Linked DNA regions of Homo sapiens. The protein of the gene in region 1 interacts with the protein of each later gene in a biochemical or structural test. Each region holds a gene or a part of one and is shown on either strand. Other genes may lie near its edges.

Region 1 (6,962 bases):
ACAAAAGTGATTTTTAAACTCAAAATGGTATGTAATTCCCATTTCATTTTATCTTAGACTTTTTAACATGGTATTTTAGACAAATCATGCACAATTTTGATTCTCTTTAATAGATGCATGGAATTTGAAATTTGGAAGAAACCATAAAGATTATGCAGTCTGACTTGCGCATTTTATTGATAAGGAAAGAAACCCAGAAAGATTAGAAGCCTTACCTAAGCTTGTTAATCACAGAGCTAAGATAAGAATACAAGCCTTGGATTCTTACTTTGGTACCTTTTCCAAAATCCAGTAACAAACTGTTGGTGACTGAACTGTCTCCATTTCTCTGCTGAGATCAGCCCCTAGGAGACTAAGAACAAACTACTGGGTGGAGGCATAGACTCAAGCAAGGACTCATCAATTCTGCCTTTTCATGCTTCAACAAACAAATGTTCACAGGACTGCTTCTGACTTCCCAGTTTAATAAATCACTAGAACAAAAGCATTCATAAATCACATTACATTATCCATTATAGCACTTACCCAGTAGTCCCTTTGTGGGTCCTTTAATGTTACTATTTAGTTTCCCATATTTCCTTTTCTTTACTAGCAGAAAGTCCAGATGCTAATTTAGACCTGTCTCAGGCTCTCTCTTTACCTTGGAAGGGAAGATCTCAGGCACATACACAGCTTGGGTATGTCCAGATTTTTTTTTTCTTCCAGGGAAGTGGAGATGCAGGTAGTTTGTGAGATGAGGGAGAATCTCCTCGTAAGCTGATGGACATTTCTAATAGCTGTGGAAATGAAAAAGTGAACATCATTATCAAATCTAACAAAAATAATAATTCCTTAATATCCTCTAATATCTACTCTATATTTAATTTTCTCCAGGTGTCTCAAAAATATCTCTTTTACAGTTTGTTTGAATCTAGATCCAAACAATGTTAACATATGCATTTGTTCAATGTACTCTTACGTGGCCAAGCATGGCCTGTAATCCCTGTAATGCCAGCACTTTGGAAGGCCAAGGCAGGTGGATCACTTGAGGCCAGGAGTTCGAGACCAGCCTGGGCAACATGATGAAACCCCGTCTCTACTAAAAATACAAAAAATTAGCCAGGTGTGGTGGCACATGCCTGTAGTCCCAGCTACTAGGGAGGCTGAGGCAGGAGAATCACCTGAGCCCGGCAGGCTGCAGTTGCAGTGGGCCAAGATCGCGCCACCGCACTCTAGCCTGGGTGACAGACTGAGACTCCGTCTCAAAAAAAATATATATATATATATAAATATATATATAAATATATAATATATATATTTTATATTATATATAAATATATATATTTATAATATATATATAAATATATATAAAACTCATATGATGCTATTAAGAAGATCCAGTAAGGATATGGGAAACTTTAACTTCATTATTGCCGAACTATTTTCCAAAGTGATTGCACTAGTGTCACTCCTATAGAGTTTATGAGAGCTCCACTTCCTCTCTCACTTTTGGTATTGTCAGATATTTTTTTTGAGACAACAGGGTCTTGCTCTGTCACCTAGACTGGAGTGCACTGGCATTATCCTGTCAGACATTTTAACTTTTGCCTATCTGATAGTAATGATAGTAAGCCTCGCTCTGTAGAAATATGAGCCTAGTCTTCAAACATGGCATAATAGTGTTTTAGATATTAACATTACATGCTCACTGGAGATAATTATATACCCCCCATACCATCTGTAAGTCACTGTTTTGGCTCCTATGTCAGGATCTTTTTATTAAATATTAACAAAAGAATGGCCGGGCGCAGTGGCTCACACCTGTAATCCCAGCACTTTGGGAGGCTGAGGCGGGTGGATCACGAGGTCAGGACTTCGAGACCAGCCTGGCCAACATGGTGAAACCCCCATCTCTACAAAATATACAAAAAAATTACAAAAAATTAGCAGAGCGTGGCGGTGTGCGCCTGTAATCCCACCTACTCGAATCACTTGAACCTGGGAGGCAGAAGTTGCAGTGAGCCAAGATCGCGCCATTGCACTCCAGCCTGGGTGAGACTGAGACTCCGTCTCAAAGAAAAAGAAAAAAAAAAGAAGACAGGTTATTATGTGCTATTTAGTATTACCTAGAAAGGATATGACTGGCATTGACTTTTCCCTCCTGAGAAGATACTTCTAACATATATGAAACCCAAGGGACCAGATATTGGATCCACTGTGATGAGTGTCAGAATTCTTGTAACCTCTTTTTTCCTTATTAGTATCTGTCATGCCAGGTTGTTGGCTCTGATGATGTCATAATGCTTTGTTTGTAGGGTCATCCGATGCTACTGTTTCCACAGGAACAATCAGCTTTTAGGCAAAGTGAACCTTGGACGGTAAAAGCTGATCTTCTGAGGTCATAGGAATAAATATATCTCAAAGAAAATACACTGGAAACTTCTTCTTTAAGTTTTCCTCTTTCATTGGAATATGTGGGTTTCCTCACTGTTGTAATGTTGATGACACAACAAGGCTAACACCGGATATGCTTCTGGCTGATTCCGGTTTACCAAGAGCATCCAAACATCCCTCAAGGACACAGTCATTTTGCACAACAAAGGGAAACTCCGCTCATTTCTGGCATTAAGGTGGACATCTGAGAAAGGGGAGGGTATACCACCATAACTTCTCTAGTGATGAATAGTGTTTAATATTATACCATAGACTAACTGGCGTATTTTAAAGATCTTTTTCCTTTTTGAACACATTTCAGATTAGAGAAGTTCCAGAGAACGTAATCTATTTTAAGAGTGTGAAAGAGTGATATTCCACATTGCTTTTATATCTTAAAGAAATTTCTAAAAAGAAAGCCGAGTCAATAAAATGACAGATTTTAAGCCTTCATTCTGGTAACATAAAAGCCTTCTACTCATTGTGTCTGCCACCTTAATTTTTAAAGATAGAGCATGAGGTGTAAGCTTTTGGCTTCCATTTTCCTCTTATAAACCAATGACATCTTCAGTTCCAGAATAGCTTTTTAAAAACGTGACTTCTGATAAATGTTGGCAGAACTGGTGCATTCCTAAAATAAATTATGTATGCTCAGCTTTCCCTACCCAAGTTCATCCCTAAATGACCACAAAACTGCCCACCACGAACTATGCTTAAGAGAAGTCTGGACATAATGGTATAAGTGTATATAACACGACATTGGTATATTTAAAAAAAAATTCATGCCTAGGGTCAATTCTGATAATCAAATTTAGACTGCTGCAACAACCGTAACTATTGTTGATATATGCGCAGTTTAAAAGTGAAGGGCGGGGGTAAGGGGCAGAAACTGCACACAACAAACTTCCAAATTTTGTCTCCCTTTTCAGGCAAGTTTCAGCTCCACAAATCTAAATACCCTCGCCTTTAAAATATCAGTGTCGTTCTGCTCTTAAATCCTCATCCCGTTGTACAAGGAAACCTATGTCTCTCTTCCCCAAATTAAGAATACGAGAAGCCTTCCAGGTCTGCAAATACCAGAAAGCAGCTGCGCATGAAGTTTTATGGGGCCCCAAGGCTCTGAGAGTGGGCTTGGAGGTATGGAAAACACATCCCAAGGGAAAAATCTGTGAACCGCACAACTGTGGTTGGAAACGAAATAGGAAAAAAACTGCGCGGAACCGGACGTCATCAGCATTTCGCGGTACACACGAAGAAAACAACCGTAGTCGGGTCAAAACTGGAGCCGTGTCTCCTCAGTAACGAGAGTAAATGGGGGCCCGACGCGTGAGCGGCCAGCCGGACTGAGACAGAAAGTACTCAGAGCGCCATTTACCGCGCCCTCGCCCCGCCCCGTAGCCCCTCCTCCCGTCCGCCCTGCGCGCCAGCCAATCCCCTCGCTCCATCCCCTTCCCATCGCAGACCCCGCCCCCGCGCCCGGGATGTTGAGCCCCCGCGGCGTGACGCGAGCACGGCAGCTCCTCCCCCTGCGTCTCTGGCCTCGCCGGTCTTGGGGGGATGGTTCCATCATGGCGTCAATGCAGGTGAGAGGAGTTTGCTGCATCTGGGCGGGCCAGGGAGCCGCCGAGAGAGTGCCAGCGTTCGGGCGGGGGTGGCGTCCGCGATTCGGGGACACCCGGGCGGGTTCGGGATCGGTCCGGGTGGCCTGTTTTCCCTCAGCTCAGGGCGTCGGGGGAGGGGTAAGAGGCGGCGAGAGGCGTTGTGGGGGGTGCGGTATCCGTCGGTCGAAGCGGACACCAGCCGGCCGGGAAGTTGGGTGATAAAGGAGGGTTGGGGAAGAAAGGGCAAAGTCTGGCGTTGGCGGTCTCAGAATCGGCTCCCCGCACACACACACGGGCGCTGCCAGTCTGCTGCCCGCCAGCCCCAGGGTTGCCTTTACCCCCGCTGTCCCTGGCCCGACGGAAACAGCTGCGCCCGCGGTTGTTGCCGGGGCAGGGGCGGCGGGGGGCTGAGTGTGCGGGAGCCGAGAATGCGTCTCCGGAGAAGGCGGCTGGCTGCGGACGGCGCTTAGCGGCCTCTGCTCCGGCCTCCCACGCCGGGCCCCCCAGACTGCTCGGCCCCGTCCCTCTCTTCTTCCCTTTGACTCTTAATCCTGTGCCCGTGGGTATCTTCTATTTCCATCAGCCTCGGTATTCTCGCGGACATTCCTCCAGCAGTCCACTGTCTCCTTCCTCTCGAAGCTGCCCCGTGTCCACCGCCTGATGGGCGATCTCCCGAGAGCCGAGTCCTCAGCCCCCTTAAACCTCTCGGGATAGCTTGCCTTCTATTTTGTTTCCCACTGCAAGGCCCCACCCTTGCGGTCGCGATAAGGCTATACATCTCTTTGCCCTTATTCCCAGACCTTTAGTGGAACCTTAGTTTGGTAGGAGGCGTTTGTTAACCTGTGCCATATCCCCCCGACTTAGCAAGGCGTGGTTTTCTGGCTTTCCAACTTAATTTACTCCTTTTTCCCGAATCTAGGGAGTTGTGGGTTTTTTTGTTTTTTGTTTCCAGGCAAAGATGGCAACCACAATTGTAGTTGTGCAGGGATTGAGTGCGTTATCTGTAGCCTGCATTTAATTCACAGGTGAAGACTAGCGGTATCAAAGGCATTGGAAGAGAAAGTAGAACGCTCAATAGGAGTGTCAGCTGAGTACCCTTTAGCGTTTTCATAATATCCCCTTGGGTAAAGAGACCACATTTTCTTAGAAGTGTTTTTTGCTTTTGTTTCTGGAAGAAGCAAGTCTCTGTTCCTCCTCCATTTTTTTTTCTTTACTCTGCTAAAAGTGTTTTTCTTCCCTTTTCTGCATCTTCTTCCTCTTTTGTACAAATATAGCTTTGCTTCACATTTACTCCTGTGCTTTTATGTTATTCCCCTTTCAACCTGTTTTCCTTACAATATTCTCTTTACCTTGCTTCTCCCTCTGGACTTGCCTGCAGAACAGAAAAGTTTTATGTAACATTTCTAGTTGAAGAGATATCACGAATGGTGCAGGGAAAAAACAGGAACAATTTCAGGAAACATTATACTTTACACTAGTCTCCCCAGAGACGTTGGAGAAGTTTCGTCATTTGAGGCCAAAAAAGGAACAGTGGAATGCTAGTTGAACAGTAGATGCAATAGGCTACATTACCACTTAAAGATTTTTATCTGTGTTAAGATTAAAACATTTTTTATGACAAGTTTAAGATTATTATCTGTATTAAGATTAAAACATTATTTGAGGCTAAACATTAAGATTAAAATCCACAACACTTGTATTTGACAAGAGAACGTAGTGTGTCATCTCGTTAGATTTAGTATCTGGAAAAGGCAGATTTGTTTGTAAGAGAGAGGTTGGTAATCTTGAACTTGAACTTTACATGGTGTCTTTTTTCTTTTTTGAGATGGAGTTTCGCTCTTGTTGCCCAGGCTGGAGTGCAATGGGGCGATCTTGGCTCACCGCAGCCTCCACCTCCCGAGTTCAAGCGATTCTCCCACCTCAGCCTCCTGAGTAGCTGGGATTACAGGCATGAACCACCACGCCCAGCTAATTTTGTATTTCAGTAGAGACGGGGTTTCTTCATGTTGGTCAGGCTGGTCTTGAACTCCCGAACTCAGGTGATCCGCCTGCCTTGGCCTCCCAAAGTGCTGGGATTACAGGTGTGAGCCACCGTGCCTGGCCTACATGATGTCTTAAGAATTGGAAACAAATACTTGATTGACAGTGCAATAGTGCATTTTTCTGTGCCCTAAGTATTACTATCTCAGACTCTTACCACCCTTTTAAGTTTTTCCTTCACCTTGTTCCATCGAAATCTTATCACTCTCTATTCTTCTGTGTTTTCTGGTTAGAGGAATGGAAAACGGATGCTTCCTATATTTATTGAAAAGTCTTTCCCTTTTTATTTGTATTTTAAAATATCTAGTGCAGATTTGCTGGTAGTATCTTTAAGAATATTTTAATATATATGTCAAGCTTTTTGAAAGACAACCCTACTTTCTGTGTGGTTATTCTGTATCTTTGTTATACAGAATTTATATCCTGACTATCTTAATGGCAACATTTGGCTCTTTTAAGACAACTAGATTATACATAAATCTTCAATAAAATTATCAACTTTGTTTATTCACTGAGCCAGTTATCTTTTGGGGGACCTCTATGTGTCAGACACTTATCTAGTTGCTGTGGTTATAGCAATGAACAAAAGCAGACAAGATTTCTGCCCTCATGGATTTAATAATAAATAGTCTCATAAGAAGAGACAGATAAGAACAGCATATTTAAGTTAATTGTGTTTTGTTCTTGTTTTTTGTGTTGAGATGGAGTCTCGCTGTGTTGCTCAGGCTGGAGTGCAGTGATGCCATCTTGGCTCACTGCAACCTCCGCTCCCAGGGTTCTAGCAATTCTCCTACTCAGTCTCCTGAGTAGCTGGGATTACAGGCGCTGGCCACCACGCCCAGGTAATTTTTTTTGTGTTTTTAGTGGAGACTGGGTTTTGCCATGTTGGCCAGGCTGGTCTTGAACTCC
Region 2 (7,042 bases), on another chromosome or scaffold:
AAGGACATGATGGTCCTACACAGTAAGGAATGGATTACCTACAATATTAATAGCAGCCTCCCATACACACTTTTGACACCCTTCCCTAAAGGATTAATATGCTCCAACCTTCCTGTCCCCACAGTTCAGTGGCTCTCCCTACCCTCACCATGATCGGATGAAAAAAAATAAGGTTTCACAGCTTAAGAGTGAAATTCTGGAATCCAACTACAAGCTCATAACTGTAGCATGGAACCTGGTAGTAGCATAATAAATAAATTTTTAGTAAGAGGCTTAAGAAATTTTAGCAAAAAAAGCACTCCCTTTCTTCCTCCCTACATATCTCATATGTTTTTCAACACAAAAAATTCTGTGATTTTAGAGAAACTTCTTACAGTACTTTTAAGTTCAAAACCAGATGCTCATTACAGTTCTTTTAAACACCAAACTAGTCATCTCAAAAATATGGCTAACTCTCTGGACTAAATTCCATAGGAAAAATTATTAATTTCAAAATGCCTAATTTTGATCAAATGCCTGAAAGAGCCAAAGGCAATCATGTCCTGCTTCTCACTCAGGGCAGAGTTCCATGAGGTCAGAAAAGCTCCAATGATATCCGGAGGTCTGTCAGAGATTAAAATATCATCCTAACAATTCACAAGCTACTTCTAAGTGTTACCCTAAATTAGTCACTAATCGTTTCTCCCCCAACACTATTTCACAAATTAAAGTTTACAGAATTGACAAAAAACCAAACCAAATGAAAACAAACCCCAGGCTATTTGCAGGGGGGGGGAAAGAGATACCCCAAAAGTCAACCCTATTTCACAGTAGTTAAAAGAGTGATCCAACAGATATTACCCTCCATAAAGTACCCTAAAGGCAGGAGCAATCTTTCCCCTACACTATCTAAATTTTCCCAACTCACCCAAAAGAATCTTAAGATGTAACTTCATCACTCAACTTGCCAATTAGCAAATAGCGGCCCCCACATCCCTTTTGGCCAATTTTCTAGATGCCTGACCTAGCAGACAGACCTGTTTTCCTCCTGCCAGGCCTTTTTTGCCCTCCCGCTAGGAGCCTGGGAAATCCCCCTCCAACCTTTTGCTGGCCTGTCACCAGAAGTTCATAAAATGAATTCATCCAGATTCTCTGAATCCTCCTTTTCCCCAGTCATGTGCCAACAGCCAGGCAATAATGCCCCACCGTGACAGGCTCCCTGTTACAAAAAGATGCAGATTCACGGGAAGACCAAGCACTTAGCATGGAGCAGAAGAAAAAAAGATGGAGGGAGGCGAGAGTCGCGGAGCCAAGCCTGCTGCATGCAGTACGGGTGACCACAGCCCGGGTCCTGCAAAGCCCCCGCGAGACTCGCCGGCTGGGCCCTCCGTACAGCAGCCACACCTGTCTATGCCAGCCGCCTGCCGGCTGCTCCATTTTAAACATTTCAAACAGATCTCCAGCAGGGTGGCAAAACTGGGCACCTCTCTCTCCCAGCAAGAGTGAGAGCCCTAATCCAGGCATCACTTGCCCCTGATTTTATTTCATTTTCACACACTCTGTTTAGGAGACACTGCTTGCTCCAACTGGCTCCATCTCTCCGTTACCGGTGAGGCAGGCACAGTGCTGCAGTGGCAGAATGGAAGTACCCAGGCTGACTTGCTCTCAGCCAGACACGACCTCTTCTCTGAGGAGGGTGATGCCAATAAATGGAACTCCAATAGGTAGGCTTCGCTCTGCCCTTCCACAAGTGAACACACGCCGTGAGTCCCTAAATCGCCAGGCTCCGCAGCCTCGCAGAAAGCCTAGTTTCCAGACGGTAGGTATCCCATTTATCCCTTGGCATCGGGAACCAAAGGGAATGCAGACAGATCCCGGTCGTGCACTACATTCCCAAACCTTGGCACGCACGCGAAGGCTTGGGGCGCCCCGGCGCGCCCTCCCTCCGAGGCCTCCACCACCCGCGGACTCACCACTATGCGAGCTGAACCACCTGGGTGCGATGTGCAGAGGTAGAGCATCCGCCAGCGAGGCTCGGGAGCCCAGGTACAGCATCCCGTCTCTATGGTGACCGCCGCCCGTCTCCTGGTAACCATTGCCATGGGCATAGGTGGAGTCGGACGCAGACCCTCCGCCGCCGGGCGCCCTCTCGGAGTCGCCGGTGCCCCGGGAGGCGGGGGTGTAGAGGCCAAAGGGCACCCCCCCGGCCGTGCTGGGGTCCATGCCCATGCCTGCCACCGAGCTGACCGAGCGGCTGCGCAGCCCCATGGCCCCGCCGCCCGTCCGGTAGTGCCCGAAATGGGGCGCCCCTCCCGGCGGCGGCACGGCGCTGTCATCGGTGGAGACCCCCGGGAAGGGGCCCCGGGAGCGGGCCGCCGTGCTCTGCTTGCCCCCCATGCTCGCCCGGGCCCCGGTGGGGCGGGAACCTGGAGGCCGAGACCCTCCCCCACTTCTCAGCAGCAGGGGGAGGGCTGGGCGAGCATAAAGGGGGAGGGAGTCAAAAAGGAGACCCGGAGGGAGAAAAGGAAAAAAAGCAAAAGGAAAAAAGGAAAAAACCCGCGGGGCGGAAGAGGCAGGCGGGCGGGCGGGGATCCCAAACTCAGAATTTCAAACGATCCAAGGCAAACGCATGTTTCCCCTCAAGGTCCAAAGAGGCGCAGTCCGGCGCGGGCTCCGCGCGCCACAGGCCGCCCCCGGGCTCCGAAAGCCGGGGGAGCCGCAGGGAAGGAGGGAGGGAGGCGGCGGCGAGCGGCGGGCGGGCGCGGGGAGGCGCCGGAGGAGGCCGCCCGCCCCGCGGGAGGAGGCGGAGGAGGGCCGGGGGCGCCGGGCGCGTCCCCCGCCTCAGGACGCCGCGACCATGGACGGCGGCCCGGACCCCTCCAGGCCTCGGGCGGGCCGCGGCGCTGGGCGGCCAGGCGCAGCTCGGGAAGCCGCGGTCGCGTCGCGTCGCGCTCTCGCTTCAGCCGCCGCCGGCCCCGCCAGCCGCGCCGCCCCGCTCGGTCCCGGGCTGCGCTCGCCGGCGCTCCTCGCCGCCGTGGAGACAATGGAGGGCGGCAGAGCGCAGGCGCGGCCCGCGCCCCCTCCCCCTCCCCCCGCCGGGTTAACCCTTTCGCGGTCCCTGCGGCGCCTGGGCCGCTGACGCCCCAGCAGTCCCCACCCACCGCCCGCCCCCGGCCGGCCTGTGACCTGGGCGGCCTGACCACTGGGCGTTAGCCACAGAAACCAGATGTCTTTCAAAAGCAAACACTTCTTAAGTCCCCGAAAGTGGCAAATTATTCAGGGGGAACCAAGTATGGGGGAGGGGCAGCAATGGTTCGAGGGGGTGGGAAGGAAACACCGGGAAGAAGGAGATTTACTCCTTACGCCTACCTGGCTCTGAGGGTCACCGGTCGAGCTCCCCTCCTGGCACAAATTTGCCCCCACAGCACCCTCTGGTGGACGTGATGTCCATTCTTTCGGGGGTTCCCCATCCAAGCACCCCTCACGTCCGGAATCTCAACATTTGGCGGGGTTTAGTTATTTGGGGGTAAACAGCGCCATGGGGACACTTGTGAATCCGGCGTTTTGCTGACACTAGATCATAACTTCCTATTTTGGGCTTAAGCAAATGAGTAGATTCCTTAGCTAAAATGTAATTTTCAGAATCAATAGATGTACCATAAAAAGTGAATAGATATGGGTATGGAAATAGAACAACGCAGCTAGAAGTGATTATAGAAACCTTCTGTCCAAGGCTGGAGCCCTGTTTTGTTTACCATGTGCTGTGTTTCGGCCCTCACCACGGGCCAAGGACACGGTGGGTACTCAATAGGTGTATTGTTGACCAAGCCTGAATCATTTGCAAGGGAGTGTTCCTTTGCTACCTCAAGCCGTCTTTCTCCTATATTCACATTCATTTATTGAACAACTGTTTTTTTTGTTTTGTTTTGTTTTTGTTTTTGAGACGTAATCTCGCCCTGTCACCCAGGCTGGAGTGGTGTGGCGTAACCTCGGCTCACCGCAACCTCCGCCTCCCGGATTCAAGTGATTCTCCTGCCTCAGCCTCCCGAGTAGCTGGGATTACAGGCACATGCCACACTGCACCTGGCTAATTTTTTGTATTTTTAGTAGAGGCGGGGTTTCACCGTATTGGCCAGGCTGGTCTTGAACTCCTGACCTCAGGTAATCCACCTGCCTTGGCCTCCCAAAGTGTTAGGATTACAGGCATGAGCCACCGCGCCCGCCCTGTTTTTCTTTTTCTTTTTTTTCTTTTCTTTTTTTTTTTTTTTGAGACGGAGCCTTGCTCCTCCCAGGCTGGACAACCTCCGCCTTCCAGGTTCAAGTGATTCTTCTGCCTCAGCCTCCCGAGTAAAAGTCTGTTAAAAATTTCAAAATCAGGCCGGGCACGGTGGCTCATGCTTGTAATTCCAGCACTGTGGGAGGCTGGGGGTGGGGGGGTGGGGGGAGATGGGGCAGGGGATCACCTGAGGTTAGGAGTTTGCAACCAGCCTGACCAACATGGTGAAACCTCATTTCTACTAAAAAAAAATGAAAATAAAAAATAAATAAATTAGCCAGGTGTGGTAGCTCACGCCTGTGATCCCAGCTACTTGGGTAGCTGAGGCAGGAGAATGGCTTGAACCCGCGAGACAGAGGTTGCAATGGGCTGAGATCGCGTCACTGCACTCCAGACTGGGCAACAGAACGAGACTGTCTCAAAATATACATATGATATATATATATGTGTATATACATACATATATAGTAGAGATGGGAGTTTCCCCATGTTGTCCAGGCCGGTACTCCTGGCCTCAAGCAGTCCTCCCACTTCGGCTTCACAAAGTGCTGGGATTACATCATGAGCCACTGTGACTGCTGAACAACTATTTATCAAGTGCTAGGTGCTGGCTGTGAGTATCACACAGTCCCTGGCTTAGCTGACTTCCACCTATTAAATGACCCCAGATACTTCTAAACTGGGGGACCAAAACAGGATGTTCAGAAATATTAAAAGAAAACCAAAAAGAGCAAGGCTAGCCCGTCACAGGTATTGATTGTTCCATTGTGGCCAGCCTGGAAACAGGAGGAAACCTATTTGCAAGCATGAAATACCTGGAGGTGAGCAAACAGCCCTGTAGAAGTAAGAATTTTTGCAAGAGAAGTAAAAATAGGAAGAAACAAAATGTGCCAACATCTAATAAATTATCTGTAGGTGCCTATATGAGTATGTGTATACCTAAAGAGGAAAAACAAGAAAGCTTAAATTTAATCCCATTTCCTCCTAGAAGAAAGACTATGGTATCAGAAGAGTGGTTCAGTACTATACTAAAAAAAAAAAAGGTATTAGACCCCGTGGAAGATCCCTATTAGAGAGATAAATACATGATACCCATTGTAACTATCCAAACAGCTTTTGATTTATCCATTCACTGAACAGTTTTTTAGTGTATTTAACACAATATTTAGTATGTAATAAATTCCAGGCACTGTAGTAGGTTCTGGGATACAGTACTGAACCAGAACCAGACAGATGGAGTCCCTGTTCTCATAGAACATCAGAAGAAACACTTCCCACCCACTTGAATGGCTATGATCAAAGAGAAGGGCAATAGTAAGTATTGATGAGAGGTGGAGAAATTGGAACCCTTGTACCTTGCTGGTGGAAATGTAAAATGGTGCAGCTGCTTTGGAAAACAGCCTGACAGTTCCTCAAAAAGATTAAATGTGGAGTTACATGACCCAGCAATTCTGCTCCTACCTAGGTAGAGTTCCAAGAGAAAGCAAAACATATGTCTGCAGAAAAATGTGTACGTAAATGTTCATAGCAGCATTATTCAAAAGAGCTAAAAAGTGGAAACAACCCAAATGCTCATCAACTGATGAAGAGGTAAACCAAATGTGGTGTATCTATACAATGAAATATTATTCAGCCATGAAAAGGAATAAAGTACTGATTCATATTACAACATGGATGAATCTTGTAAAAGCATATTAACTAAAAGAAGCCAGCCATAAAAGACTATGTATTGTATGATTTCACTTATATGAAATGTCCAGAATAGGCAAATCCATTGAGACAGATTGATTAGTGGTTGCCATGGCCTGGGGGGAGGGGAGAATGGAAAATGACTAATAATAGGTCTCTTTCTATTTTTTCTTTTTTTCCTTTTTTTTTTTTTTGAGACGGAGTCTTGCTCTGTTACCCAAGCTGGGGCACAGTGGCATGATCTCGGCTCACTGCAACCCCTACCTCCACCTCCCAGGTTCAAGTGATTCTTCTGCCTCAGCCTCCCAAGTAGCTGGGATTACAGGCATGCGCCACCATGCCACGCTAAATTTTTTTTTTTTTTAAGACGGTGTCTTGATCTGTTCTCACCCAGGCTGGAGTGCAGTGGTGCAATCTTCACTGCAACCTCCGCCTCCCGGGTTCAAGCGATTCTCCAGCCTCAGCCTCCTGAGTAGTTGGGATTACAGGCGCGCGCCACCACACCCGGCTAATTTTTGTATTTTTAGTAGAGATGGGGTTTCACCATGTTTGGTCAGGCTTGTATCAAATTCCTGACCTCGTGATTCATCCGCCTTGGCCTCCCAAAGTGCTGGGATTACAGGCATGAGCCACTGTGCCTGGCCACTAATTATTTTTTGAGACAAGTCTTGCTCTGTCGCCCAGGCTGGAGTGCATTGGCATGAACTTGGCTCACTGCAACCTCTACCTCATGGGTTCAAGTGATTCTCCTGCCTCAGCCTCCCTAGTAGCTCGGATAACAGGCACGTGGCATCATAACCAGCTAATTTTTGTATTTTTAGTAGAGACGGGGTTTCACCATGTTGGCCAGGCTGGTCTTGAACTCCTGACCTCAGATGATCCACCTGCCTCAGCCTCCCAGAGTGGCTGGGATTACAGGCTTGAGCCACTGCACCTAGCCTCTTTCTGTTATGTATTTATTTGTTATTTATTATTTTTTAATTGTGTGGTTACAAAGTGGTGTCTTTCTGTTTTATGCATTTACTTATTTAGAGACAGAGTCTCACTCTGTCACCCAGGCTGGAGTGCAGTGGTATGATCTCAGCTCACTGCAACCTC
Region 3 (7,026 bases), on another chromosome or scaffold:
AGAGTGAAACTCCATCTCAAAAAAAAAAAAAAAAAAGAATGAAAGGATCTACTAGGACCTGTCAAGGCAGGGAATTGAAGGAAGGTGAACTAGAGGACCCTCCCATCCTCAATGTCAGGAGGGGTGGAGGAGGAGCCTGGAGTTCAGACACCCTAGGGTCCTTTCCAGACCCTCAACTATATCTGTTATGCCTGCACCCAGTGTGCATCCCAGACCTTCCTACCTCATCACTCACTTTCCTCCATGAGGAAGAGCTCACCCTCTAGACCTTCATCCCTCCTCCACTGGAGAAATGACTCCCAATGCAGCTCTTCCCCCACTGGTTGACATCCAGGAACCAGAGGGCCTTCCCTGGCACCGGCGGCAGCTTCACAGTCTCTGACCGGAGTCCCCAGGCCTTGCTTAACACCTTCCACCTCTGTCCTCTCCCAACATCCATCCATCCACCCCCACATTCGTTTTTGTTGTTGTTTTGTTTTGCTTTGCTTTTAGACAGAGTCTCACTTTGTCACAAAGGCTGGAGTCGTTCAAGCGATCCCCCCACTTCAGCCTCCTGAGTAGCTGGGACTACAGGTGTGCACTACTACACCCGGCTAATTTTTAATTTATTTTTTGTAGAGCTGGGGTTGGGGGTAGTCTCCTGTGTTGCCCAGGCTGGTCTGGAACTCGTGGGCTCAAGCAACCTTCTCCCCTGACTTTGCCCCCCTCAGCCTCCCAAAGTGCTGAGATGACAGGTGTGAGCTCTACCTGTTCTTTGCAGCAATAAAATACTTCTGGATTTATGACACTTGTCTCATTTACAATACCCTGCTTAATGAAACATCAGAGGTAGAGCCCAACTATTGCTGCAACACAAAAGGGAGAAGGAATGCTCTTATTTGAAAATGCTCCTACCCCAGGGGACATCTGGCAAAGTCTGGAGATACTATATTTTTGGTTGTCAACAATGGGATAGGGATGCTATTGGCATTTCGTGGTAGAGGCCAGAGGGGCGGCTAAATGTCCTACAAGGCACAGGGCAGCCCCCTACAACCAAGAAGTATCTGGCCCAAAATGTCAACTGTGTTAAGGTTGGGAAACCCTGGCTTAGAGTATTTTGGCAAATACTGTTTCACTTGTGCTACCTCCTTGTGAGGCAACTGGCCGAGAAGCCTGGCTTAACACTTCCTGGTGATGTGTCTGTCTTTTGTCTCCTCACCTGTAAGACTTGAAGGGAAGTGCACCCTCCCCACTGGGCTGCCGTCAGGGTTGAGGGAGTTAATATCCATAAGGCGCTCCAGGCTACTGCAGCCTGCCTGGAAGCTGAAGGAAAGGTGGGGGCATTGTAGGACACCTTGAACCCAGGTCTCCCAACTTCACAGGACTCCCTTCCTCCGCCCAGGAGTTTTAAGGAAGAGGAACTTCCTGGTGGGACATATTGAGTGCCAAACGTGTGTTCACATAAAAAATCAAGAGATCAGGGCATGAGTCTGCATCTGAAAACTCGAGTAAAAAATCCGGTGTATGCTGTTAATGGAAAGAACAGAATATGACACTTGCATGCCGCATATTCTCACTTCGTTCCTTGGGGGTGTGCTGCTACCTCTGGTCACTGGCATCGGACTTTTCTTCCTTCTTTCTACTTTCCTACATCTCCCAAGTTTTGTATTTTGAGCATGTGTTAGCATTATAACTGCTAAACAGGAAAGATGGCCTTTAAAAAGAAAGTGAAGTGTAAAAGTTTGAGGGTGATGAAATAAATGTGCTTGAGGAAGAAAAAGCAATCTCAGTTTAATCCTATGGTTGCCCCAGGAGGCACTAATTTATCCCTTCTGCTTTTCAAGTGAGGAAGCTGCAGCTTGGCGTAGTTCTGGGGGGAGTATGAAGCTGCCTTGGTTTAGGTGATGGAGCACAGGTCCACAGACATGTGTGGGTGCATCTGTGGCAGGGGAGAAAAGAGCATGTGTCCAGACTACAGCTTGTTCAGAGCTGGGACACTGACAATAGAGCACGCACTGCGTGCGTAGGTGGGTGTGTCTCCGATCCTCCAGCAGTGACAGGGACGAAGCCTTGCCCTGTGGGATGACTCAGGCCACTGGCCAAATGTTATGTCTCCATGTTCAAGTCCCTCTCCAACTTCTCCTCCTGGGACAGAAACAGATGGCAGCGGAGCAGGAGAAGGTGGGGGCAGAGTTCCAGGCACTGAGGGCTTTCCTGGTGGAGCAGGAGGGTCGGCTGCTAGGCCGCCTGGAGGAACTGTCCCGGGAGGTGGCACAGAAGCAGAATGAGAACCTGGCCCAGCTCGGGGTTGAGATCACCCAGCTGTCCAAGCTCAGCAGCCAGATCCAGGAGACAGCTCAAAAGCCTGACCTTGACTTTCTCCAGGTAAGTCTGGCTCAGCCAGGGGCTCGAGTCATTTATCCTAAGGCATCAGGACCAGCAGCTAGAGAACAGTGTCAGTCCTGGGGGGTCTAGGAGAATCACATGATCTGGAGCTGAAGGGGACTGGAGAGAAGTGCCCTGATTTTCCTGGGGTTGGAGGTCTAGAGAGATGTGAAAACTTTCTTGACTATGAGCCACAATAATATATATCGTATTTCAGAATCACAAGCTTGAGACAAAAGTCTCAGAAAATAATACTCACCTTTGCTACACGTATGCACTTTGATGTTTTCTATTCTATTTCGCTAAAAAAAAAGTTATAAACAACTAGATAAACTTCACAATCCATAGATGGGTTAAGAACAGTCATTATGGGGCTGAGTGAGCAGTAGGTGCATAAGGGCTGTGACCTCCCTCAGGTGGTTTCCAGGACACACGCAGCACTGGGTCCCATGGGATAGCTCCAGTGATGATTCTGTAACTAAGAAAGCAGCAAAGATAGAAAGAAAGCACGTGAAGAGTTGTGGCAAAGGGTGAGAGGTCCACTGCGTGGGTGAGACACCCTGCAGCCAGCAGCCACTGGAAGCTGCTGCCCCTGAGGCCCACGCAGGCAGTGAGGCGTGGCACACTTGCTTATGCTTACATCTGGGAGGCACAGCAAGGGGCAAGCTTTGTTTCTCAGAGGTGAATGGAGGTTACCTGATGCTGATTTGGTTTCCTCTATCTTTCCTTCCAGGAATTCAAAAGCACGCTGAGCAGGTGAGTGACCTCACAGCTCCTGGGGCCTCTCTAAGTTGCTTCTTCCCTTTTCACTGAGCCTTGTCTTTATTCCCTGTCCCCTGACCTCTCACCTCCTGATCCCCCGACTTGCTTGCCTGGGGACCTTCCGAGACAAACGCCCACCTGCCTGGCCATGGGTTTTTCTGCATGAGGTCTGGCTCTCCCTTTTCTACCTCTTTCTGCCAAGAGGACCTCGCCATCCTAATTGTCACAGCCTGTGGGAGCAAAATGGTGCACACAGGCCCTTCTCAGAGCCCTTGTCCTGCAGGTGTAGCAATGTGCCTGGCCCCAAGCCAACCACAGTCTCTTCTGAGATGAAGAATAAAGTCTGGAATGTTTCTCTCAAGACCTTTGTCTTAAAAGGGATGCTGAAGAAGTTCAAAGGTAGGGGCCTGGGCGCCAAGCTGGGCCACATAGTGCGGTGGTGGTGGAGGGTTCCTGGTAGCTCAGGGGTCCCTGGGTGTGCTTTCCAGAAGCTGTGTGTGAAAATAGGAGCTGGCTGTGCCATGGCCAGATTGGTGTAGGGGCTGTGGTGGCAAATCTAGTCAGGCCCCCGCAGGGCATGCCGCTTCTCATGGGCACAGATGGGGTAGAGGGGTACTGCTGGGGGACTGGGGTTAGGAAGAGAGCTGTGCAGGGGAGCTCAGCTCAGAGCCACTTGGGTAGAGCTAGAATGCTTGGGTATGGGCCCCCTGCCCCCCGCTCCCCATGCTTGGCCCTGTGCCTGCACGTTCACTCTTGGCCTTAGGAGTCTCTGGGGAATGAATGAGTCAGTTGGGATATAAAGAGCTGGTGACCTTGCCATATAATCTCCCGTGTCGCTCATGCACGCCTTGCTTTGTTTCTCCTCCTCAGAGGACCTTCGGGGAGAGCTGGAGAAAGAGGAGAAAGGTAGGGATGGTGCTGTGATGGCGAGTATGGACTGTCTGCCACACAGAGATCCTACTCCCTGCTCGTGACCATCTCAGGGTTTTGCATATGGTCGGTTCCTTCAGCCCACCCACCTCAGCAACCCTGTTCCTCTGTCCCCTCCCCCACACCACCCCCTCCCCATCCTGGGAGCTCTGACACCCTCAGATGTTGGCCCAAATGCTGCAGGTTGGTTAGGAGCAGGAATGCCCTGTACCTCGAGATACTCAGACTGGGAAAGGCTTCTCGGCCACCTGGGTGAGCCTCTACCCGGTCCCCACTCCAAGATGGATGGAAACCTCTCCTGGGAATGGGGTGTATACAGGGGACCAGGAAAGCAAGGGGAAGCTAAAGACTGGAAGGAATATCGTTTTTACTCTTGCAAAGCTCTGGAATGTGTGGCATCCAACACCCAGAGGAGGGGAGGGGAGGGCACATATTCCTGATGCTGATGTCTGAGCTAAGTCAGAGTGTGTCTGGGTGCCACCTAAAACACCTGAGTGAGACCAGGCCCTCCTCTGCTCAGAGCCCTGCCACAGCCCCTCTGACTTGGTAAAGGTCAGAGTCCCCATGGAGGTCTCAAGGGCCCACGGGCTCTAGCCTCACTGCACACCCCTTCTACTCCACGCAGCTACACATCCTCCCTGCTGTTCCTTCAGTGTACCAAGCACACACCCATCCCGGGGCCTTTGCACTGCCAGGCTCCCCCACCCCAGGCCCCTACCTGGAGCATGCTTTCCCCAGCCAGTCCTGTGGCCTGCTTCTTTGCCTTCTTTATATCTGTCTGCTCGATGCCCCTTTTCAGTGAGGGTCTTCCCTGGCCACTCTGGTTGAAGTTACAGCCTGCTCTTCTGGTCCCTCTCATCTTCTGTTTATAATCTATCCTCAATCCTCTCCCTGTGGGAAGGAAGCTGCAGGCAGGCAGGACTACTCTGATACTCTGTGGTACCCCCAGGGCCTCAATCGTAGTAGTGCTCACAGTAAGTGTACATATTTTAACTTTTTTTTTTTTTTTTGGAGACAAGGTATCGCTTTGTTGCCCAGGGTGGAGTGCAGTGGAACTGCAGCCTCCACCCCGCAAGCTCAAGCGATCCTCTCTCCTGGGCGTCCTCGAGTAGCTGGGACTACAGGAGCACACTACCATGCCTGGCTAAATTTTCTATGTTTTGTGGAGACGGATGTCTCGCTATATTGCCCAGGCTGGTCTCCAACACCTGGGCTCAAGCTGTCTTCCCACCTCTGCTTCCCAAAGTGCTAGGATTACAAGCATGAGCCTCTACACCTGGCCTTAACTTTTTATTATGAAAAATTTCAAACATACTCAAAAGTAGAGAGAAGAGTGTAAAGAATGTTACATACCCATCTCTCACCGTCCGCAGTGATCAATTAGTGGCCACAGTTTTCATAGACACTGCTATCCACTTCCTGTGGGATTATTTTGTTTTCTGAGACAGGGTCTTACTCTGGAGTGAGATCATGGAGTACAGTGGCCTGATCTCTGCTCACTGCAACCTCTGCCTCCTGGGTTCAAGCGATTCTCATGCCTCAGCCTCCCAAACAGCTGGAATTACAGGCACAGGACACCATGCCGGGCTAATTTTTGTATTTTTAGTAGAGAAAATACAAAACAAGTTTTCCGCCATGTTGCCCAAGCTGGTCCCAAACTTCTGACCTCATGTGACCCATTGGCCTTGGCCTCCCAAAGTGCTGGTATCGCAGCTGTGCACCATCTCACCCGGCCTCCACTGTATTATTGTTATTATTATTTTTATTTTTGAGACAGAGTCTTGCTCTGTCGCCCAGGCTGGAGTGCAGTGGCGTGATCTCAGCTCACTGCAATCTCCACCTCCCGGGTTCATGCCATTCTCCTGCCTCAGCCTCCCGAGTAGCTGGGACTACAGGCGCCCGCCACCACGCCCGGCTAATTTATTTTATTTTTTTATTTTTAGTAGAGACGGGGTTTCACCATGTTAGCCAGGATGTTCTTGATTTCCCGACCTCGTGATCCACACACCTTGGCCTCCCAAAGTGCTGGAATTACTGGCGTGAGCCACTGCGCCTGGCCTACTGTATTATTTTAAAGCATCAGAGACAACATATCATTGCCATAAATACCTCAGTGTGTTATCTCTAAAGAAACAGACTTTGTAAAACATAACCACAAAGCAGTCCTCACACCTGGACAGATTAATGATTCTTTCCAATGTCTAGCATTCAAATATCCCCATCTGTTGAATTGGGGTTCAAACCAGGCCCACACATTGCATTTGTTTGATTTCAGTAAGTACTTGTTGAGTGGTCGGGGCGGGGGGAAGCAAAATCTCTGGGAGGCAGAGCGTGGGGGTTGGTTGGGCCTTGGCGCTGGGTGCTGGGGGGATTCTAGAGGGAAAGGCAGGCAGGTTGCAAAGCAAGGTCGGGCGCGGCCCTGCAAAGACTGTGCCAGGGGCCTGGCTGCGTGGGGACATTTCTCCCTGTCTCTGTCTGCAGTGGAGCTCACCTTGGATCCCGACACGGCCAACCCGCGCCTCATCCTCTCTCTGGATCTTAAGGGCGTGCGCCTCGGCGAGCGGGCCCAGGACCTGCCCAACCACCCCTGCCGCTTCGACACCAACACCCGCGTCCTGGCGTCCTGCGGCTTCTCCTCGGGCCGGCATCACTGGGAGGTGGAGGTGGGCTCTAAGGACGGCTGGGCCTTTGGCGTGGCCCGCGAGAGCGTGCGCCGAAAGGGCCTGACGCCCTTCACTCCCGAGGAGGGCGTCTGGGCCCTGCAGCTCAACGGCGGCCAGTACTGGGCCGTGACCAGCCCCGAGCGGTCGCCCCTCAGCTGCGGGCACCTGTCGCGCGTGCGGGTGGCCCTGGACCTGGAGGTGGGAGCCGTGTCCTTCTACGCTGTGGAGGACATGCGCCACCTCTACACCTTCCGCGTCAACTTCCAGGAGCGCGTGTTCCCGCTTTTCTCTGTTTGCTCCACGGGCA
Region 4 (7,026 bases), on another chromosome or scaffold:
TAGAGTGCAGTGGCACAGTCATAGCTCAGCTTTGAACTCCTGGGCTCAAATTATCCTCCTGCCTTAGCCTCCTGAGCAACTGGGGATTACGGGAATGAGCCTCACCCAGCTTATAGTTACAAGTTACATTATTTCTAAAGACTTCATGGTTTTTTTTGTTGTTGTTGCTGTTCTTTGTTCTTTTTTTAAAAAAAGAAAACAACAACAACAAAAAACAGTATTTCACTGTGTTGCCCAGATGGACTCAAACTCCTGGGCTCAAGCAATCCTCCTGTCTCAGCCTCCCAAGGAGCTGTGACTACAAGTGCATGCCACCATGCCTAGTTGGATTTCAGAGTTGTAAAGACCAATGGAAGTAGAAGAAAAAGCAAACTTGACTTTCTTTTTAAAAACGTAAAACATACGTTGGATGCTGCATCATCCTCCTCCTTTGAACTTCCATCCTCTGCATCACTTCATGAGGATGCAGTCTCTGTGCTGGAGGTGCTGTGGCTGGAATATGGTGCGAAATTGGCTGGTGTGTAGGAGGAAGATGCTGAGGGATTGGTGCAGCTGTACTGGCTAAGTGAGTTGGTGGTGGGGGTGCCACAGGATGAGATGTTGCATGAGAAGATATTTGAGAATGGAAAGCATGTACAGGATGAGGAATAACATAATCCACTTGAGGCGGAGGCTGAGTCTGAGGAGGGGGGTTTCCATGAGAATGCGGGCAGGCAGAAGCTTGATGATGAAGTGGCCTTGTCAAAGAGGCATCTGCAAGAAAAATATTTTGAGTATGTTACATAGGCACCATGCAGTTGAACATATATTGCTATTATACATTCCTAGTGTACTTTTAAACATATTAGTATTTTATTTTTATGAATACTTTATCAAGTAAAGTATTCAAGCAACTGCTCAAGCAACTTGCTCCCTTCTTACAATAATCTTGGATATCTTATGTCAATATATATATTATAGTTTAACTTCACTCACAGCTTCACAACATTCTATTATATGAACACACCAAAATGTACTGACAAAATCCCCACTGATAAAAAAGAAACCCAAATGCTATGATAAATATCTGTGTATATGCTCACTCCTGCACTCACTCTTTCATTTACACACATGTATACACACATATATAGAGATCATTTCTGTAGCATAAATTCCTGTAAGTAGTTGTGGGACAGAAAGAAAAAAATAAATTTAGATGCCAGTTAATAAAAATACCCTTTCCAAAAGGTTGCCATAATTAATATTTCCATCAAGAGTACACAGGAAGGGCCAGGCACCGTGGCTCACACCTGTAATCCCAGCACTTTAGGAGGCCAAGGTGGGCAGAGTCACCTGAAGCCAGGAGTTCGAGACCAGCCTGGCCAACATGGCGAAGCCCCGTCTCCACTAAAAATACAAAAATTATCCAGGCATGGTGATGCACACCTGTAATCCCAGCTACTAGGGAGGCTGAGGCAGGAGAATCGCTTGAACCTGGGAGGTGGAGGATGCAGTGAGCTGAGATCATGCCACTGCACCCCAGCCTGGGCGACAGAGTGAGACTCCACCTCAAAAAAAAAAAAAAAAAAAAAAAAGGAGCACACAAGAAGGCCTGATTACCCCCACATTACCACTAAATTTTTAAAATAAATGCCAATCTGAGAAAAATCTTTTATTTCTTGACCGCTTGTATGTGTTCTCAGAATTATCTATTTACATGCTTAGCCTATTGTATTACTCACCTTTTTCTTATTGACTTGTAAGTATTATTTGCATATATGGAAGCTCTGTCATAATAGGGTGTAAACATTTTTCCAAACTGTCTCTCTCTCTCCCTACCCCATGTCATTATTCCTGTGCTACATTAAGGTGAAGGAGACCTATTTGTTTCCCATCAAATATGGACGTAAAGTCCTTAATAAGATGGCTCCTACCATTTCTTCATTCTACATCTTTATGTTTCAAAGTGACTGCTGAAAAATCTCTCTGAGGAATACACATCTTCCTTACTCTTAGAGATGTGCATCTACTTGACATGTAAAAAAAAAAAAAAAGTTTGTCTTAGATTTCAATACAAATTTCATTTTATTGGAAGATGTTCTTGGAAGTCTGATATAGACCAACAGCCATTCTCTAGTTTCATTACAGAAGTTTTCAATTTTTAATGCTTTTGATTCATTCAGCAAGGGCAGAAGTTAGGTAACAATAACTCAACTATATTTTCAAAGTATGCCTTGTTAGCATGTACTTAAAGGAAACTTTCAACAAATCTAATTTTTAAAAGTTGCAAGACAAATTTTTAAACCAATTTTCTAAAAGTTCTGTTTTCAAATCAATGCTTTACTCTTCAAGAAGGCACAAAGCTCAGTAGCTAGCTCTTAATCATAAAAAATGAATCCACTATGTTTTATGATTGTTAACTATCCTTTCTCAAATTCACAGCATTTTTTCTAGTTGCAAAGTTTTATATTTGTGTAATCATTATACAACATTCACAAATATTACAAAGCAAGAAGTTTTGTTTCAGAATGAGTCCATTTATTTAACTACTCTTTAGACATCACTTTAATTCACTGTTTAAACAAAACAGGTTGCTGACCATTTTAAGAGTGACATATTCCACATTCCCAAAAACCCTTTCCCTTCCTCTATTTGTGTTCCCAACAGTTAAAAAAAGTTCTTGATATTGTTTCCTAGACGTTCAACATATCACTTGCAGATGTAATACTATGCTTTATTCCAACATTTACTCACTGCATTCCCATAGCTTTACAGTGTAGACCATTTGCTTTATGATTAATCGTAAGTAGCCTTACCTATACCTCTCTTTTTTTTTTTTTTTTCTTCTTTTGAGAGGGAGACTCGCTCTATCGCCCAGGCTGGAGTGCAGTGGTGTGATCTCAGCTCACTGCAATCTCCATCTCCCAGGTTCAAGCAATTCTCCTGCCTCAGCCTCCCGAGTAGCTGCGATTACAGGCACCTGCCACCACACCCGGCTAGTTTTTGAATTTTTAGTAGAGACAGGGTTTCGCCATGTTGGCCAGGCTGGTCTTGAACTCCTGACCTCAGGTGATCCACCCGCCTCGGCCTCCCGAAAGTGCTGGGATTACAGGCGTGAGCCACTGTGCCTGGTCTTTTTTTTTTTTTTTTTTTTTTTAGAGACAGGTTCTCACTATGTTGTCCAGGCAGGAGTACAAGGATTGTTCACAGGTGTGATAACAGCACACTACAACCTTGAACTCCTGAGCTCAAGCAATCCCCATGCCTCAGCCTCCTGAAGAGCAGGAACTACATGCTCATACTACCAAGCCAGGCCTTACATATCTTCTCAATACATCTTATTAATAAGATAGTAAAACTTTTAAATAATAGCATTTCAAGTACAGTTGTTTTATCACTTCATCAAGACCACAAACCTTTCAAAAGCAGAGAGAGACATATTCTTACTCCACAAGTATTGTTGTTATACATATAAATGTACTTATGAAACAGCAAACTATTCATCTGGATCCAAGTATCACAATTTATAGCCAATAGGAATTATTCCCATTTTACAAGTGCAAAGAATGTAAGGACAGAGAGATTAAATAACTTATCCAAAGTCACCAAGCTAATTAGTCAGAGCTGGGAGGTCAACTCGAATCTATCCAATTCTAAAGCTAGTGCTCTACTATGCCATATTGTCTTCCCCAGTTCATTCTGGATGAAAAAAGGTTTAAGAACCACATGTTTCACACGTGAACTAAAGCATACGGGAAATGTTTTTTAAAAGCACGGGCAAGTTGGGGAGAGAATACACACACTCCTTCAGGAAAAGAAGCCCAAAACAGAGTTATCAAAATGTCTCTAACAGAAAATAATACAATTTAAATTTCCTACCTTCATTCTCATTAACACACTCCTAATGAGGTGTGTAAATTGATGCAGCCCCTTGGAGAGAAAACTTAACAGTATTTATCTGAAAGTTTAGCCCTCTGACATAGCAATCACATTTCTAGGAAGTTAAACTATACATAAACTCAACCATAAACAACTTTAATGTCCATCAACAGAAGACTGATTTAATATACAATGGATATTATGGGGGTATTAAAAACCAATGAGCTAGATTTTTATGTGCTAATATGCAAAAATCAAAATATACTGTTAAATTTAAAAACAAAAAACAAGAAGTAGAATATGTTTGATTTCCCATTTTTAAAAGGTAAGACATATACCTATCTATGTGTACAAAGAAAATTTCTAAAAGTTTTTATAGAACAGTTACTACCTCTGATATATTAAGATTAGTAAGCTGTGCGAGGAAGCTTTTAAATTCTCATTTTATATGACTGCACAGTCTGAATGTTTTAGAATATAACAAATGAATCTAAAACATGTATTTATTAGGACATTTTGAAAGGAATGAACTTACTCATAAACTGCTTCAGTATATTATTTTTAAAGGGGAGGGGCAGAAAATTAAGCATATTGAATTTCAAATAAAAGATGATCAATCAAAAATGAATACCATCAAGTATTACAAAATAGGCCATGCATCACACTGGTGCTCATACAAAGAATTGGCCCATTGGTCAATGCTTTGTAAAAACTTGCTAAATGTTTTCCAATTTATACTTTAAATTTTAAGTTGCATTACTGAGAAGGTAAATAATATATCACCAGTTTCACTGTACAGATTCTGGGTTGATTCCAGCTGCGTCTGCACGATGCAGATTTTTTTAAATGACTGGAGTAGAAGAAAAAATCCAAGAAGATATGTAAGTGAAAATTACCACTTGCCATGTAATCAAAACAAAACACAAATTTCCTTGCTGACTTCCTGGTTCATTTCCAGCATGAATTTTTGGTGTTTATCAGCCAAGTGTTTATTAAGCTTTCATTTCATTATTAGCTTATGATCTAACAAAATAGTAAATATGTTACATAGCCTTAGAGTATTTATCATTTCTTGTGATATCTAACGAATTTCAATTTCTTTAGAAAAGGCATGGCTGGTTCTATTTTATTTTTATAGAAACGGGGTCTCACTATGTTGCCTAGGCTGGTCTCAAACTCCTGGCCTCAAGCCATCCTCCTGCCTTGGCCTCCCAAAGTGCTGGGATTACAGGAGTGAGCCATCATGCCCAACCATGGTTATATTTTAATTGCCTGCATCAAATGAATATAAAAATCCTTTTACAACTCCCAAAGCTTGCTGTTATGTCTCAGCTAACTGCTTGAGAATTCTTAAAAATTTACTTTACTGTGCCTAGAAATACTACTCAACTTTCACATTTCTTCAGCTATACTAAAGAACAAATCTAAATTCCTTAAAACTTCCATTCAATCCACCTCAATTACATAATACTAACATGGGAAAAAATATACCCTACTCTTAAGCCAAGTAAATACTAAAAATTTAAGAACTGGGATTAAAGGTTATTTCATAAGGAAGTACAAAATGCTTCATTGACATGACTCTAGATTTTGTGTCCACTAAGTATATACTTACAAGGGGGTGGCATGTAATGTCGACATGATGAGAGAGAGGGCTGTGGAGGGGGCTGGGGCTGGGGCTGCGCAACCATGCTTGATCCATAGCCATCTATTGATGATAAAGGTTGACTTGGGGCAGCAGCAGCGGCCTGATGGCCAAAGATTGCAGCTCGGGAGGAAGAAACAGGGCAGCAGGGGTCAAATGCAGATGCTCCATGAAAACTGCCACTTCCATGACTTCTGATACCACTGTTGCTCAGGTCCACTGGCAATGCCTGCTAGATAAAAAGGAAGTATATTTTATCTTTCTAAAGTTTGGTCAAATATTTCATGTTATATTATAAAAGTATTCCTAATATAACCAAAAAAACATAATCTTTAAATTAGTTTGAAACCAGGAAGATTCTTAGTATGAAGAACCAGTGAGCACCAACAAAATACTTGGTTATCTTGAATATAACAAGTGTATCCTGGATTGTGAAAACTGTAGTGGTTTTACAGTTAAACCAATTTTTAAAAATCAAGCATAAGATTTTATCACAAGATGAACAAAAGTTTAATATATTAAAATCTTTTTGTCTTATAACAAATACATCTTAGAAACTTTAAAAATCATACTTCTATATTCTCCTTTATCCCAACATTGTGACTAGTACTTTAGGACTCCTTGAGAAAACATACTATCACACTACTGAAAATATTAAGGTTCTAGGAAAAATCTTGTCTGCCCCAAGTTCCAAACTGTATAAAGCAAGAATTCAATTAAAGTGCTAATAAACAAATCTACATTATTCAAAATAACAATGGACATAAGATTTTTCAGACTAAATCATGAATTACCTTTGCCACTCAAAGCTTTCACTTGTTCAAAAACATAAGAATAAAAAAAGTTAAAGCACTGCTTCCTTTTATAGGCATATTTATTGCATTTTATAGGCACATTTAGTGCTTTGCAGATGTTCGGGGTTTTTTGTTTTATTTTTAATAAATTGAAGGTTTGTGGCGACACTGTGTCAAGCAAGTCTATCAGAGTTATTTTTCCAACAGCATGTGGAAACTCTGTGTCTGTGTCACATTTTGGTAATTCTCTTAATATTTACATTTTTCTCATTATTATTTTATCTGTTATGGTGATATTTGATGAGTAGTCATTGATGTTACTATTATAATTGCTTTAGGCACCAAGAACTGTGCCCATATAAGACAACAAATTTAACAGATAAACATGTGTGTCCTGACCAGATGTTTCCCCATTACCCTGCTCTCCTCTCTTTGGGCCTCCCTATTCCCTGAGACACAACAACATTGAAATTAGGCCAATTAATGGCCTCTGGTATTGAAGTGAAAGGAAGATTTGCACATCTCTCATTTTAAACCAAAACCGAGAAATGATTAAGCTTAGTGAGGAAGGCATGTCAAAAGCCCAGAGAGGCCAAAAGCTAGGCCTCTTGCACCAGTTAGCCAAGTCATGAATGCAAAGGAAAAATCCTTGAAAGAAACTGAAAGCACTCCAGTGAACACACAAATGATAAGAAACTGAAACACCCTTATTGCTGATCTAAAGAAAGT

Evidence for each region.
Region 2: the proteins of UBE2W (region 1) and ZNRF1 form a complex in vitro, tested with the Homo sapiens proteins (one study listed by BioGRID).
Region 3: the proteins of UBE2W (region 1) and TRIM7 form a complex in vitro, tested with the Homo sapiens proteins (one study listed by BioGRID).
Region 4: the proteins of UBE2W (region 1) and RNF111 form a complex in vitro, tested with the Homo sapiens proteins (one study listed by BioGRID).

The regions. Positions count from the first base shown.
Region 1 is NC_000008.11:73,875,841-73,882,802, reverse strand, and holds the start of UBE2W (ubiquitin-conjugating enzyme E2 W), read left to right. Parts: upstream 1-3,940; 5' UTR 3,941-3,980; coding exon 3,981-3,995; intron 3,996-6,962. UniProt on the Homo sapiens protein: Accepts ubiquitin from the E1 complex and catalyzes its covalent attachment to other proteins.
Region 2 is NC_000016.10:74,995,006-75,002,047, reverse strand, and holds the start of ZNRF1 (E3 ubiquitin-protein ligase ZNRF1), read right to left. Parts: upstream 3,025-7,042; 5' UTR 2,377-3,024; coding exon 1,953-2,376; intron 1-1,952. UniProt on the Homo sapiens protein: E3 ubiquitin-protein ligase that plays a role in different processes including cell differentiation, receptor recycling or regulation of inflammation. Mediates the ubiquitination of AKT1 and GLUL, thereby playing a role in neuron cells differentiation.
Region 3 is NC_000005.10:181,195,189-181,202,214, reverse strand, and holds part of TRIM7 (E3 ubiquitin-protein ligase TRIM7), read left to right. Parts: intron 1-1,198; exon of another isoform or gene 1,199-2,061; coding exon of another isoform or gene 2,062-2,133; coding exon 2,134-2,364; intron 2,365-3,097; coding exon 3,098-3,120; intron 3,121-3,409; coding exon 3,410-3,525; intron 3,526-3,996; coding exon 3,997-4,032; intron 4,033-5,333; exon of another isoform or gene 5,334-6,537; coding exon 6,538-7,026. UniProt on the Homo sapiens protein: E3 ubiquitin-protein ligase that have both tumor-promoting and tumor-suppressing activities and functions in several biological processes including innate immunity, regulation of ferroptosis as well as cell proliferation and migration.
Region 4 is NC_000015.10:59,074,663-59,081,688, reverse strand, and holds part of RNF111 (E3 ubiquitin-protein ligase Arkadia), read right to left. Parts: intron 5,736-7,026; coding exon 5,474-5,735; intron 754-5,473; coding exon 405-753; intron 1-404. UniProt on the Homo sapiens protein: E3 ubiquitin-protein ligase. Required for mesoderm patterning during embryonic development. Acts as an enhancer of the transcriptional responses of the SMAD2/SMAD3 effectors, which are activated downstream of BMP.